Regions from separate parts of the Homo sapiens genome. Here region 2 is linked to region 1. The links come from fine-mapping of genetic effects on gene expression. A gene starts in region 1. The other region holds a variant in brackets. All regions are shown on one strand. Distances are between the middles of the regions.

Region 1 (8,000 bases):
CACATTTTCCTATTTCTTTGAATGTCTAGTACAGTTTTTATAGTATTTTGGCCATTTTGGGTGATATATTACAGATATTCTGGATTCTGTTATCCTTTTCTAAAGAATGTTGATTTCTGTCCTGGCAGGTAGGTAAAATTCTGGCTGATTGCATTCACTTTGTGAAGGCTTAGTTTTATACTTTTTTAGGGAAAATTTGTTTGAAGCTAGCCCTTAGTCTTAGACTGAAGCCTTAGTCCTAGGGTATAGGACTAGCTTTTCTCCTATGGTATCACCTTTGTGAGGTTTCAGTGTAAAGCCTGAGATGTTTGCCAAGGCCCCCTTAATTGGTGGGATTCTAACTGTGCCTTCCCTGTGGTGTCTATCAGTTGAAATGTCTGCTCAGTTTCTTCTTCCTTCCAGCTGTTACTTTCCTCCAGAGTCCTTGAAGGCTCCTTTGTAAATACACAGCTCAGGAATCGGCCAAGGTTTTGAGATCATTTATATGCCAATTTAGGGGCTCCCTCATTTCTAGTTTCCTCCTTTCTGGGACTTCCACCTTCGATTTTTAGTCACTTTGATAGTCTTGAACTTTGTGCTCTGATATATCATGTCAATCAATAAGGCTGAGGCTTTCTAGCAATCCCTTCATGTGGTGTCAAGTGATAACCTTCAGGGAAAAAAAGGGGCTGGGGTAATGTTACACAGTATAGAAGTATTATTTCAAGAAACAAATCCCTCCAGTTTCTGTCTGATTTGTGTTGCTCTATAGTGCCTTCGTGTAGTTTTTCATATTTTGACTAGGGTTTATAATTGTTTGTCTACATTGTCTACATTGAGCTACTCCACCATTCCTGAGACTAAAACTAGTCCTGTTAAATTATTATTATTCACTTGAAAACTGACTTACAAATATAATGAAACTTATGCTATCAGTCTTATTTCCTATAAAACAGAATACGTATTAGGTAAGATGAGTAGGAGTTTCAGAACTATAATATAGAAGGGATCTTGGATCCAGGAGATTTTTCTTGAAGCTCTGTGTACATGGTAAGCACACTATTTTTAGCTAATGTTATATTTATTTGAATGGTGGTGCAATGAAGTATGGTGGTATACTGGGGAAGAGTACTGTGGAGAAGATGAGACGACTCAAATTCCCAAGTCACTCTGGTAGGTCACTGGCTGAGATTCTCTTCAAAGAGGTATCATTATTAAAAAACAAGCAATAATCTTGACTGAAAGAAAGGACCATATAGCATAGACCCTGAAGAAAGAGTTGGAATGAGTTTAAAGTATATTAGCATAAGAGTCACTCATGTCTACACTGAGCAACCCATATGGATTTTAATTGAACAAGTTGCAAAATATTAGGCAACTTTTTTTTCTGTGCCATCTTCAAGGTTTGCAACAAATAATAGTGTCTAACAGTAAATCAATTTTGAGTTAACTCATTGACAAATTAAGAGAATTCATCATATTTCCATTTGGTAATATGTCATCTCCATTGGGTGGCCTTCTCTCAGTGTTATTCTCTGGTTTTCCTTCATTACACTTACTAAAACATGAGATTATATATTTTTGTACTTGTTTGTTTAACTATCTTAGTGAAATGTGAGGACAACAGTCCTTAAGCAAGACATTGATCATCATTTAAGATTAAACTTAGTCTAAATTAATCATACTAAGTCATACTTAAATGAAAGTGTGTCCACCTTTTAAACTGGATAATATGGACATTGTTTTTCTACCATGCCTATTCAAATCTTCCCTTTACCCAGATGATTCAAGCCACTGAAACCTCTTGTATCTCTGATCTATATAAATTTAAAAAGTATTTTTAATATCCAGACTTTGTTAAATCCCATTTAATCCAAGTAGTAAATTTTAAGTACAGTATATACTTTGTAGAAAATATATAGGATAACTATCAATATTATCAATATTAAGATCAACAAACAATAACAGATTATTTCACTTAATTGTAGCCCTCCTTTGAGTTATTAATATTCCAATGTAATAGACGAGAAAAGTATAGTTCAGAGAGGTTAAGTGACTTGGCCAAAGTCATACAACTAATAAATGACCAGTTCCTATAACTGACTAGCTATCATTCCATTATACTATAACTCTCAGAGAGTTATTTGGAAGAGATCTTTAAACAGTAACAAACCAGGTGATGGAAAAACTTAATAATTTATTATAGGTGCAATATAAATATTTGTCAACATTCCATGCTGTTTCTTTCCAAAATATGAAGTCAAATAGATGGGCATATTTTCATTTAAGTATGATTTAATTAAATCAGACTAAATTTAATCTTGAACAATGGTCTATGTATTTACAAATGTTTCAGAATGTGAAGACACAAAAAGAATATCTATTAATTTAAAGACATGAGGATCACATTTTTAAACGTTTAATTTCCTCACAAAGCAGTATTACTACATTCTTTATCTTCTTCCTCTCTCACACCCCTCTTCAACCAGACACCCATCTACCATTACTCAAGCCACCACCTGTGTTGTTTAGCTCTGCACTTAACCTTCCCCCACTGTAGAGGACAATGGTCTTAGTGCATACAAGCTGATTGCAAATATTATACTGCTTCAAATCCAAAGTAATGTGTGAGATGGACATGAAAACTTCAAAATTGTTCCCCCACCCCCCCAACCCCCGCAGAACACACGGACAAATGTGGTTAGCAGGGTCTATCTTGTTCTCTGATCACTAACTTCAACAAAGAGGAAGTCCAAAGAGTGCAACTGCCAATGGTAAAAGGAACCCTTTACAAGAAAAAGGAAAGGAAAGGAAACTTCCTTTGTGCATAACAGTATAGCCATTTTTAACAATGGAAAACAGCCTGGGCTACTACTTCTCATGCTTCAACTTAGGAAACGTTTTTAGGTGAAGACTGATTCTGGACCAAAACTTCTTGAACATCCTAAGCTGACTCAGTTGTCCCTTTTCTTTGATTCTGACTTCCCACCCTCCATCATGCTCCTGCTCAGCTAAATCTTTCCAGCCTTACCTGTTGTTCTAACCACAGACCTAGGCTCTCTGCCTTCTGCCTCACTCTTATCCATCCCATACTGACTCCTCTCCTTCCTAAGGCAAAAAAAAAAAAAAAAAGACTTCTTCAAATCTACTCTCCCGTAGTAGATCTGCCTCCCACTACACTCTCATAAACTCAAGTTGAAGCTTCTGTCACAGATTCACAGATTCCTTCAACCTTCTGGGGCATGGAATGTAGCCTGCGCCACCAGCCAGCTCAGTCTCTTCCTGTTTTGGATTCTCCTCTCAGGCCCGCATCTTCCCAGCATCTTCTCTCCTCCCGTGCCCGCTCAGACCATCCTCTAAATGTCCTCAATTCTCAGACACACATCTCCGCCCCTTTCAGGCTCACGGCCCCTCAGAAGTCCTCTCCTCTCAGATCCACTGCTCTTTCTTCCTCTGATGCCTTTGCTTCCCAGACCCACAACGCCCCTCAGACCCACGCGCCCCTCGACCGCCCTCCCCCGTCAGACCTACACCAGTCACCTGGACCCGCCCCAGACCCTGGCTCCCCTCGGGCCACCTCCCTCCTCAGACCCATGCCCCCTTCAGGCCACCTCCCTCCTCAGACTCTCGCCCGCCTCGGACCACCTCACTCCCTCAGACCCACGCCCCCCTCGGCCGCCCTCCTCTCTCAGACCCACACCCCTTACCTGGACCCCCCTCTGACCTAGGCCCCCCTCAGACCACCTCTCCCCTCAGACCCACGCCCCTCACCTGGACCCGCCTCGCGGAGCCGATCTGCGTCTGCTGCACGAAGGGGTTCGGCACCGGCGGCGGGAAGAAGGACGCCTGACGGGGCACCATGGGCGGCCGCAGCCCCACGTTCCCGACGCCGGCACCTGGCACTGTGGCCGCCACTTCCGCCGCCTGGGCGCACCGGCTCATAGTTGAGCCGGGCGTAGAACCCGGCCGAAGCGATCTACGCGGGCGCTGCAGCCAAAACTGAGCCGAAGACCTACTAGAGTCCCAGCCTAGGGCGACGCTGGGGAGCCTCTGCGCAGGCGCTGAAGTTACTTAGACGCCTGCTGCTGCCGCCCTGCCCCTTCGGCTGTGACACGCCCCAGGCTCTGGCCACACCCCCTCAGGCATCTGGCTCCACCCCCTTGGTAATATAGTCCATCCCCTCGGAGGGGAATGTTTTCCTTCCGAGCCAAGACCCTGAAGGGTACCCCAGGATCCCTAACATTCCACAGCGAGACACTAGGCAGAGTTCCCTGCTTTAGGGTCGGACGGACCTGGATTTTCAATCCCTTTTACTGGGCCTGTGACGCTGGCCAAATCACTATCTCTATGAACCTCGGTTGCCTTCCGTAAAATGCAGATAAATGTATTCTCAGATAATCCTAACCTGGATCCAGTAATGCCATTGAGCAACCACTTCCCCTGGGCTGTTCCATTAAGTGAGCTAATATTAATACACCCATGATGGCACTAGGAGTGGAATTTGTTTCACTCAAAACATAATGGACTGACAGGGGAGAGATGGTTCTCCAGAGGAAAACTGAGCTACTATTACCAGAAAAGGCAAAAATTACAGTTGCCCTCCACGCTAGATGAGGAACCTGACCCAGAAAAGGGAAATGTATTGGGCTGTGGCTCCCTTTCACACTGAGGAAGTTCAAGCCTGTTTGGACCTATGTGGGTGCTCGTGGGGGTGGGAGGGCAGGGGTTTGTCCCATTATCTGAGGACAGTTGATCAACCCTGAGTGGCTGAGAGTTAAAGGAAGGAGATGATAATCAACTCATCCCAACTGATCAACTCTTCTCACAGCAGGTAGGAAGGCCAGGATGAAAATCTGAGTCTGAGCCCTGGGGTTCTCCAAAGTTACCCTCTGAATGTCAGAATCTTCCAGCCCTACCACATAGATGTGTGGCCTTGAGTCAGTCACTTAACCTGAGTTTGCTTCCTTGTCTAGGAATGGGAGATTCATTCTAACTCCATAGAATTGTAGCAAGGATTAAATAAAATAATGCATGTGTAGTGTTCATAGAGAAACACTGAAGAAATGGCATGTTTTAAGCATTATTATGTTGTGGAGCCACTGACTTTTCTCTCAGTGTAACAGGGAACATTAATAACAGTGCATTACAGCCATGATAGAAGATTCCCCAGTCTAGGGGGTCTTCAAGTTGGGACTGGCAGACCCTTGAGACTCTTTAGCCAGATACCTGCACAGAAAGATGTCTTTCCAACTGTCAACAACCTAAGCCAGGCCAGGTGCAGTGGCTCACGCCTGTAATCCTAGCACTTTGGGGGCTGAGGAGGGTGGATCCCTTGAGCCCAGGAGTTCGAGACCAGCCTGGGCAACAAAGAGAGACTCCACCATCTCTAAAAAAAATTAAAAATTAGCTGGCTGTGCTGTTGCATGCCTGCAGTCCCAGCTACTCAGGAGGCTGAAGTGGGAGGATTGCTTGAGCCCAGAAGATCAAGTCTGCAGTGAGCTATGATCATGCCATTGCACTCCAGCCTGGGTGACAGAGAAAGACACTGTCTCAAAAAAGAAAAAAAAAGAAGAAGAAGAAACAAAAAGAATCTGAGTCAAGGGGACAGGCCATGGGAGGATAAAAGATAGAAAAGATGGGGCCGAGAGTGGTGGCTCACACCAATAATCCTAGCACTTTGGGAGGCCGAGATGGGTGGATTGCCTGATCTCAGGAGTTCGAGACCAGCCTGGGCAACACGGTGATACCTGTCTCTACCAAAATACAAAACAAATTAGCTGGGTATGGTGGCGTGCACCTGTAATCCCAGCTACTTGGGAGGCTGAGGCAGGAGAATCACTTAAACCTGGGAGGCAGAGGTTACAGTGAGCCGAGATTGCGCCATTGCACTCCAGCCTGGGTGACAGAGTGAGACTCCATCTCAAAAACAGAAAAAAGAGATAGAAACAATGACATCAGGCTCACTGAGGAGGTCACCTGTAGAGTTCACTCCTTACGCACCTTCCTCACCAGCCCCATCATAAGAGGCCAGAAGCAATATATATACTATCAATCAGACTATCGGAGCCAGAAAGGGCCTCAGAAAAACCCCAGGCCTTCAATTTCTGTTCAGCAGTAGCTCCAGAATTTCTATGTAGGAGATTAGGAGTGGGTAGACTGGTAGGAAGGAGTAAGGAGCTTATCCATTAATACCAGCTGTGTTTAGAAGCAAGCACAGTATTTCTCCCTTAGCTGTGTTTACCCAGCGTGGTTTTGGGGGTGGTGGAGGGTAGCAGGAGCGGTTTTGAAGGTGGTGGGGGTGTTTTTGAGGGTGGCGGAGGGTGGTGAGATTCTGGTTTGAGAGCTAAAGCTCCTCTGCTAGGCTATCCTTTGGCCTTGTAGGTCCCTAATAGCTATGGGACCCTGGAAAAATCACTTCTCTTGAGCCATCAGTCTCTTCATCAATAAGATTCAACTAATAATGGCCTTTTTTATTTATGTGGTTGGAAAGGTTAAAATAGGTGACACGTGAAAAGTGCCTTGCACATAGAAAGCACTCTATTAATTGAGGGGGATATTATTGTTACTGTTCATTGTTAGTAGTAGCATTAAAACTGATATGATTGCTAATGAAGAAACAGACTTAAAGAGGAAGCAAACCTCGAACAGATGCCACAATAAAGCAACAAAATTGCTGATTCTTCAGGGCTCTTTCTACAGGACAGAGGGACTAGAGCTTACTCTCCCTGAGGTTCTCTTGCTGTTTACTTTGGAAGCTCTGACCTTTCCAGCAGACACCATCACCTGTGCCCTGCAGGGAGCAGAGATTCGGACTTTTTAAGTTTCCGCTTCTGGCTGGGTCTGTGGCCCTTGTCTAGGCTCTGCTAAAACAGATGGCAAACACGGCCACTCAGTAGGTGTCTTTATTCATACTTGTTGACATTTCCCATGGGGAATGGTTGAAGGGAGGGGCAGGGAGGGCTGAGCGGGAAGCCACGGCTTGGTTTTCCTCCATCCAGTGGAGAAGAGACTCGGTAGGGACATGCTAAGTAGAGTGAACAGGGGAACCATCACTATGTGGGCTGAGATGCACTGTGCAGTGACTTCAGACAACCTGAGTCCTTCTGTCAGGAAATGCAATTTCTAAGTGGAAAAAAAAAACAAGACCCAAAGAAAAAAACAAAGTGCATACAAAGCAAACTGCTAATGTAAGAAAGGTTCTAAGGCAGCCAGCAGTGAAAAGCCAGGGGTCTGGAGTGGCCACCTGGCCATGCCCTGTCCCACTGCCCTGTGCCAGGCTGTCGGGCCACCAGTGCCCTCTTGAGACAGTCTCCATTGGCTCCAAGGGTTCTGTGAGCCACAGAAGGTTGTGAAAGGAGAAGAGCCTGAAGTGTGGCAGCACCAGGGCAGCCCAAAGCAGGGCTGCGTTGAAAATATCAAAGTATCTCTTTAGGGGTGGCTCTGAGGGTTGGTGGGATTGGAGGGGGAAGGGGCGCCTGGGAGGAGTACAGTCAGCATCTATTCTTGGGCACCGGGAGGAGCCACTCTCTGGAATCTTAAATTACCAGGTAGGAGTGAGAATGCTGATTAGCTGTAGAGCTGAAGGCACGGCTGCCAGGCCCCTCCGGGTCCTTCTCTAGTTCTCCAGGCCCGGTGTATCGAAGGCAGTGGAGAGGAAGGGCCTGTGGGAGCCAGGGCCAGCTCAGCAGCCTAGCCAGTCGGATTTGATGCTTCCAAACTTCACGCTCTTCAGACTTTGGTTCTCCAGCTTCAGGTAATAGGCACCCTTGAAGAAGTAGCTGTGACCTGGGATAGAGAAAGAAGAGACCGTGACCCCCTTATCCTGACATTCTGGCACACAGAAGGTTCCTGGGAACTTTGAATTTCTGCCTGGCATAGGGAAGAAGCTTTTAAACGAGAAGAGAGCTTTGAAAGGCTGAGGCAGGAGGATTGCTTGAGCCCAGGAGTTCGAGACCAGCTTGGGCAGCATAGAGAGACCCCCATTTCTACGAAAAACATATTTAAATTAGCTGGGTATAGTG
Region 2 (8,000 bases), 23 kb before region 1:
AAAAATCTTTTACTATCTATAAACTCTAAAGTCAATCCACACTATCTAGCATAAGTTGTTTTTAATTATTTAAATGGAGCTGTGGAATTCAATTACTTGAATAGATGCATTCTATTCTGAAAATTCTGAATACTGTGAAAAATATGAAACCACACATAAAATCTCATTTAACCTGTCTTGTCCACCCTACAGACAGACCAAATACTTCTTAGTCTGATACAAAACTTCTCTAAGTTTATTCCAAGTCTCCTTTTCCTTGGGATATTCGTTTTGGTATAAAATCTGTTTCTTAGAATCTGTAACTGGAGTAGCACTTTGAGCAAGGGCAATTGAGAAAACAGATTTAGAAGTAACAGACACAGTGCTAATAATATTAAGTAGATGAGAAGACAAAAGTGGACGTGAGATTTGCAATAGATTGAACAAAACAAAGCTGTGCCTTTCAAAGATTTTGTGTTTGTTTAAAAGTCCTGAAAAATTTTTGACTCTCAAAATATTTTTTCTCCCTTTCATTCCTGAATTCTTTCTCCTAATTTCCTTTTCCTCTTCTCACATACTTCTCAGTTGAGAAGGCTAGATTAACTAAACCCGTCTATTATATTTTCTATCCCCAGTTCCTCTTCCAGAAAAGCTTTCTCCTATTTGATCATCACATTAACCTGGACTGCTGGGCAACCAAAAAAAGTCCTATTGGCCACATCACTATCTCTGTAAGGAACTTAACCTGTAAAGGCCCAAAGGATGGCACACCTCAGAAAGTGGAAGTATGCTATGCATCCATTGTTAAGGCACTTCGTTTTCCCAAATACTTTCATACTACCTGTTTCTCCCAATTCTTCCATGTCTAAAAGCAATCAGGAATTCAAAATAAGTAATGGCATGAAACATGTATTTTAGTCAAATGAATAAATTGATTTCCTGGTAAGTGAAAGATAATATGCTGTTTAGATATCCTTTACAATTTATGTTCTTTATGTTTGGCGTTATTTGTGTATCTTCAATTATCAAGGACTGAAGCATAACAAGAATATAAGTGTTTCATATGTGTTAATATTTATTCTACTGTCTCATCAGTTACCTATTCTGATTTAAATTTATTATTTCAAAGCAATGTATATATACACAAAATGGAGAAATTATGCAGTTTTGATTTCAGAAGTTGGTTGGATTACGTTGAAGTTATCTAAAAAAGCCTACAATGTGCTTAAGGCAACTGATGATTTCCTTAAATATTTCCAAGTTATTGTCACCTACCCATCAACAATGTTATCTGAGCTTTGTGCTTAACAATATGAAAACTGGGTAAGACCCTAAAGGAAGTCTTCAAATTCAGGTATTTCATACGGCTCTCACCAAAATTTAAACAGGCTCAGACTTATTCAGAGGGAACTAAACAAACGATCTTGAGAGAAACCAAGTTTCTACATGTTCTGTTCTTTTTAAAGGCCTACTTCACATCAGCTTGCTTAATAATGAAACTGTATTCCTCTTCTCTCTTAAGTAAAGTGCTTATAGAAACTGCTGATTCCAATGCTTTTCAAATCCAAGAGCAGAACTGAAATCTTGGTTAGCTATTTTTTCAACTCATATCAGACACATCATAGCTATTTCAGGCCATATGACTAAATTTTTCTGAATGGCTTAAACCAACATAGTAAGTAAGGATAGAGACACTAGATAATGCCAAATCTGCAATGGAAATAAAACTACAAAATTAAAGCTAACTATGATGCAAACTAGGTCACTTACGAACTAGCAAACACTTGAGACCCATTTGAATGGGACAGATGACTAGAATTTTGCACACAGAAGACTCCAGGGGTTAGTGGTCAAGATAGTGATGCTCTCTACAGAGACTTATCAGTTATAAGACTTAGGGCTCTGATCAGAAATCTTTATGTTTTTAAATATAACAATATTTTTAAAATAATACTTTTTTAAAGAATGAATAAATGATCTTTCTTTTTCTTCACTAAAATAAAATTTATATAAACTAATAATAGACATAAGTGACTTACAATGTATATCCTTGCCATGTCCAGGTCACAGTATCCTATAATAACAAAATTATTTTAGCTGTTGGTCTGGAGGAAAAATACTAAATAAAATAAAGATCTTATTTTAATATGGGGATTCATGTATTTTTTCTGAAATTAAAAGCAACATGTTGAGAAGTAAAATAAATACATTATTGTTAAAGAACAGTGAACTGATCTATGAATTCTTGGATTACATATCTACATAGCAAAGATCTTCCTAATGTCAACAACTTTTGATGAAATGACTTGTTTTAATTTTTTAAAAACTATTTTACATGCTTAGCCACTTTTCTCCTAATATGAACATATCTGGATAATTAATTTGATTACAAAAAACTCAGAATATATCCGTTTTCAAAAAAAAGCTTATTTGGGGGAAATAAAATAATATGAACATACAATAAACTCAAACCTATGGGCAGAAGTACAACAAATAAAAGTTTGATAGATTTTAATTCTTTTTTTAACCATAGATGTCCAAGGTTGAAAAACCAGCCTCTAAATAGAAAACTGATTTGATCAATAACCCTTAATATTAAATAGTAGAGATAACTAATAATTATATCCTGGCTTTTAATATAAATTCTCTAGTAAAGAAAGTTCCTCTCAGAACCAAAACATTCCCTCAAAAATCTTTCTTTAGGAAAATGGTGGTAAAATCAATATTTAGAGGACAACAATGTACCCAACTGGAACAGAAGAGACTACTTCCTGAGTCAACTCTGGACTTTATATGTTAAGCTAGGCCAGATGCAGTGGCTCATGCCTGTAATCCCAGCACTTTGGGAGGCCAAGACAGGTGGATTACTTGAGGTCAGGAGTTCAAGACCAGCCTGGTCAACATGGTGAAACCCTGTCTCTATTAAAAATTCAAAAATTAGCCGGGCATGGTGGCACATGCCTGTAATCCCCACTACTCGGGAGGCTGAGAAAGGAGAGAATCACTTGAACCCAGGAAGCGGAGGTTGTAGTGAGCCAAGATCACGCCATTGTACTCCAGCCTTGATGACAGAGCAAGACTCTGTCTCAAAAAAAAAAAAAAAAAAAAAACCCGAAAAACAAAAAAAGATGTTAAGTTTTCTCAGGTATTTTCTTATTTAATTAAGTTACTTACTACCAAGGCTCACACAATTAGTAAGTACTGAGGCAGTAATGAAAGACCAAGCCTCTTTAATATTTATCCTGCTATTTCAATACTTCTTCACTAGTAATGACCACTGAGTCAGGAAAAATTTCTTTCTAGAGTTAATGAAAATCACAGATTTTTAACTATTCATTCTAATGAGACCCTAATCTGGGAATTAATCACACCAACATGGTGACAACAGAGTAAAGGCTAAGAAAATATCTTCCTGAAGTTCAGTAATAGCAAAATAATATTTAATATTGGTATCAATGGATATGTGCCTATCTTGCAAAATTTTAAAAACTAGATGTGGCGAGCAGAATGAGCTCTCCCATTTGCTTCCACCATTTATCTGTTCACAACCTTATTTATATATTAAAAGGGGTCCCAGAGAATCTGTGCTACTTGGAATACTGAAATTCTTCCTGTGGTAAAATACTGTGCTTACCAGCTTGTTTGGGTATCTGAGGAGGACTGGCTGCACTGGAACTCCTGGAATGAAGGCTCCTGCAACCACATTGAAAGTTTATAATGTGTTTTTATGTGAATAAAAGTTTTATGATAAAGAGAAAATTAATAAATAGTATAAATAGACTGAATATTTTAAGAGTATGTGTAACAGAAATCATTTGCTAAATGTTGGTAAATCCCTAGTGCTTACCAAAATGAGGGATTTTTTTTTTTTAATTAAGAACTACTGAAGCAAAATATTAAATGCTGTGCCTATGCCACTTAAAATATTTGTTTATTCATTGATTTATTTCTCCACTTTTTTTCATTTTCCAAGTGTTAATATTCAACAGAATTGTTTTAAGTAATGATAAAATCAAGACAAAGAAAAAATAAGAAGAAAAGCTACATGAAACCAAATGCTTGAAGCAAGAACTACCACACTTGCTAGAAGTGAGTCATAACTTTGCTGCTGAGCATTCTGGCAGCTAATACAAAAACATTTTAAAGTATTAAAAATTATAATGAAAGCTGCATTCACTGACTTCTAATGTTAAAAAAGAGGTGAACCTTAGAAAGCATCTGAAGACATTATAATGATAATGAGATAGGTTTTCTACTTGATGACATAGAACCTTATGTGTCCGTGAGGGTTCCCAAACACACACACAGCCACACATCCTAAGTGCACATGCATGGAGTGGACACTCCAAGGGGAGAGGAATTATGACCCCAAAAGAGAAAGCAAAGCAGTAAGTTCTGTGGATCCACAACGTTAAAAAGTTGCTATCAGAAAAGAAAAAAATGCTCAGAGCAAGCTAAAGAGTTATTTTGTGTATTTCTATAAAATCATTTGCAAAATCTCACATATTACTTTGTTAGAATACATAATTTAATTTTTCTCACCTGGTTTAAAAGTAATCAAACAGGAACGATTAGTACAAGTACCTTCTGGGAAAACTAGTATCTTGGGAAAAAAGGAATAGATTTAATATTTCAATCTAATTAATAAATTACCTCTTTACTCGCTTTCTTATGACTTCACAAACAGCTGCCAATGCTTAAAAAACAAAAACAAAA[TAAAAG/G]GCTAACATTTGATTCTAATGAAAGCTACTATCAGATTATTCAATTTTCTTGTAAAGAAAGTGTTGTCTAATTTAATTAGAAAATGGATTTAAGCTTTGAATAAAGAATATACTTAACAAATGTCTCTTAATGATAAAACTAATGATCTGAATAAACTTAAAAGATGTAGAGCATAATTCATGGTCAAAGTGTGCATTAGGCTACATTAAATTCTTTCTTCTGCTATATATCCTTAACCAAATAATTTCCAACTTTGTTTCAGTTTTCCCATTAATATTTACTCCCACAACATATAGTTCAGGCATGTCTTGAGGACAAAGGAAAAAAGATATGTGTACAATGTGCTTCATGTTTACTTGAATTAGTTGACATATGGAATACAACTTAATATCTTTTTTCTTTTTGAGGCAGTGTTTTTAGCTTTTAACATACTTCTTCATGTTTTCAAAGTAAAAGATATGCAGTACGTTAGTTTCCCCATTAAGTAAAATAGCAACTTAATTTTCTGATGCTTTTAAAATTTAGCCATGAATAAATTGCTAAGTGAATAAAATAAAATAAAGTAACATCCTGCACTCACAGCAGTTAGCAAAGTGTTTTTATGATAATTAGATAGGGAAAATATTATTGGGCTACATTGCCACAATAACAGGTTATTTATAAAATAAAAATTATGAAAGGATATAATTCCATTCTCCAGTTTAAAAGTGGGTTTCCTATGACAACGGGATACAATATCAAATATATTTTATTCAGTGAAAATTCAACAACTAAACTACTAACGATTAATGGGTATACAGTGAATCGTAAAATCTCAGAGCTGGAAGGGCCATTAAAAGTCACCTAGCATATCTAATGCTTGATTTCTTTCTACAATAGTGGTAGTTCAGCCAATGCCTGAAAATTCTAGAAAAGGATTCCACATCAGACCATTCCACTTCTGGACAGAAAGTTGTTCCTCAAGATGAGCAAAATGAGCTGAAATTTATATATTTGTTATCTCCCATCTACCAGTCCTAGATATAGTCTTTGGATCCACAGAGAAAAATCAAACCCTACTCCCAATGCCACCTATTCTCAATCCTCTTTTTAATCACTCCTTACATGCTTTGGTTTCTAAAACAACCTGTTTGGTCACATACTTTCTCTTGGACTTTAACATCTTCATGTCATCATGTGTGGCTAGATAACTGTAGGACTATTAGTCTGCTAGAGATGAGTTGTTTTCAACTGGGCAAAGATAAAGGAGTGACTATTAGAATCACCCTTGGCTTATTTTGCAGTAAATGTTACCCCCCCCCCACCCCCGCATTCCAGGGAAGGGAGTGGTGAGATGGTAAAGTTTGAAAAAAGGTTCTACAGGTGATTTTGATATGCCCCTTGAACTGAAAAGCACTATCTAAATATACTTCAGGTGAGATTAAAGATCTTAATCACTTACCCACCACAATATTGAGTATAACTGAGCTTATATAATTAAGCTTCTAAAATATGAAATAGGAGATACTTTAGTATAATGGTAATAGATACTAAGGTATCCCCTATCTCATCTATAAAGTGGTAATTAAATTTAGAGTTAGAGAATCAAATTTTTGTAACACAAAGAGAAAATTGGTTCAAAGAGTTTGGAGAATAAAAAAGAATAATACATTTAATTCCATAGAGTATCTCATGGGGAAGAGGACTTCTTAATACTGGCTACTGTATTTACTCTGCATCTATTATGCTAACAATACCTAGTATAGGTGTCCACAGATATTGCTATCTGTGGATCCAAATGAGTAAGTCTACATACATACAATTAATAAACTCCCACTATATTTAAATTAACATCTACCATGTTTTACCTGGGGCCATTCTCCTCCTGATGTTGTTCGCTTTATTATTTCATTTATTGTGTTTTTTCGGGAATCCGGATCTACACGGGACACCAAAACTGGTTGCACAGCCCGTAACAGTCCTTTAAAACAAATGAAAAGTTACAGGCAAGCCATTTTTTGGCTAAAGCAACCACAGCAATAATACTGGATATATAACATATTGTATGGAAAATTTAAATGAGTAAATCAAAGAGAACAATTAAAAAACAATTTATTAGAACTTAGCTTCTAATTTTGAAAGAAGTGGATATTTACAACTAAAAACATTTCATTAATTTAACAGAACTAAGCAGCAAAAATACAAAAGGAAGCAAATGTAATTTTCTCCCTAAAGGTCTTCTTCCTCAATTGACATTAAACCTTTGGGATATGCTACAAGATTATTGTTTTATTTTAGGAATACCTTGAAAACTGATTACGTGAATTCACAGTACACATAAGTAGGAGTAACCATTACTCATAATACTGCAATTTTCAGTAGAACATTTTTTTAAAATAGCTTCCTAACACACGAAAAATCAACTTCAATTTACCAAAGATCTATTGCTACACAATTTTTCAGGAAAAAGCCATATTACACAAAGCATGGTAGTTACATTAAAAAAAAAATGTCTTAGCTGAATGACAAAGCTGCAAGAACTACTATTACTTCTCCAGAGCACTGAGGCAACATCAGGGAACTTTCACACTCTCTCATCATCTGATGTTTGCAATAAACTTGGGACAACAGGGAGTAGTTACTTGGAGACAATTCTTGAGGGAGACCAAAGCATCTGGTAGGAAAAACACTTCACTTGCGTCATTATTTTTCATGGCAGGAAGTACCTATTGTCCCACATCATAATTTTCAAAGAGCTACACATAGGTCCCTCATGGAGATTTGGGGGGCAATAATGAAGAAAACAGAGTAAGGAGAAATCACTTACTGCATTTAGCAGCCTAATATCCTGAAGATAAATTCATCAAACAGCATATACCTGTGTTTTCATAGATTCTCTCAAATCAAACATGGATTAAATTCTCTCAAATCAGGCATGGATAGTATCTGAAAACTAGTCTTTCTGGCTATATATAAGAACAGAAAGACAATGACATAGTGATAAAAAGTTTTAAAGAGTTATGAAGCTATAAAAGGGAAGTCTCTAATCTTTTTTCATAAATATACTATTTCCATGTAGTAACTTATTACAATAAAGTAAATATGTTTGAAATGTTTATTTTAAACTTTTTAAAAAGGTTATCAATGAACTATATATGATTATTTTAATTTAAAGCATGAGCATGAAAATATTTTATCTACGTTACCTTACAAGTACTTACTGCCAATCAGAGGGACTTGTGCATTCTCATTTCGAGATACCATAGAAGGTAACCCAGCTACAACACAGGCAATTCCATCAAAGAATGTTGAATGAGGGG

The links. PIP is the estimated chance that this variant, and not a neighbour inherited with it, causes the effect.
Region 2: its variant is fine-mapped to the expression of LPCAT2 in whole blood (TOPMed, PIP above 0.99).

Annotation. Positions count from the first base shown.
Region 1 is chr16:55,505,103-55,513,102 of GRCh38, reverse strand. It overlaps LPCAT2 (lysophosphatidylcholine acyltransferase 2), which reads right to left and starts at 4,031. Exons shown (of 14, transcript NM_017839.5): 1 at 3,751-4,031. The coding sequence starts at 3,921. MMP2 (matrix metallopeptidase 2) reads right to left here. Exons shown (of 13, transcript NM_004530.6): 13 at 6,412-7,764. The coding sequence ends at 7,661.
Region 2 is chr16:55,528,496-55,536,495 of GRCh38, reverse strand. LPCAT2 (lysophosphatidylcholine acyltransferase 2) reads right to left here. Exons shown (of 14, transcript NM_017839.5): 3 at 7,902-8,000; 4 at 6,549-6,661; 5 at 4,522-4,582; 6 at 3,614-3,672; 7 at 2,019-2,053. Among named protein-coding and RNA genes, the nearest start is that of LPCAT2, 23 kb to the right of the region's middle. The variant TAAAAG/G (reference allele first, on the strand shown) is at 4,696.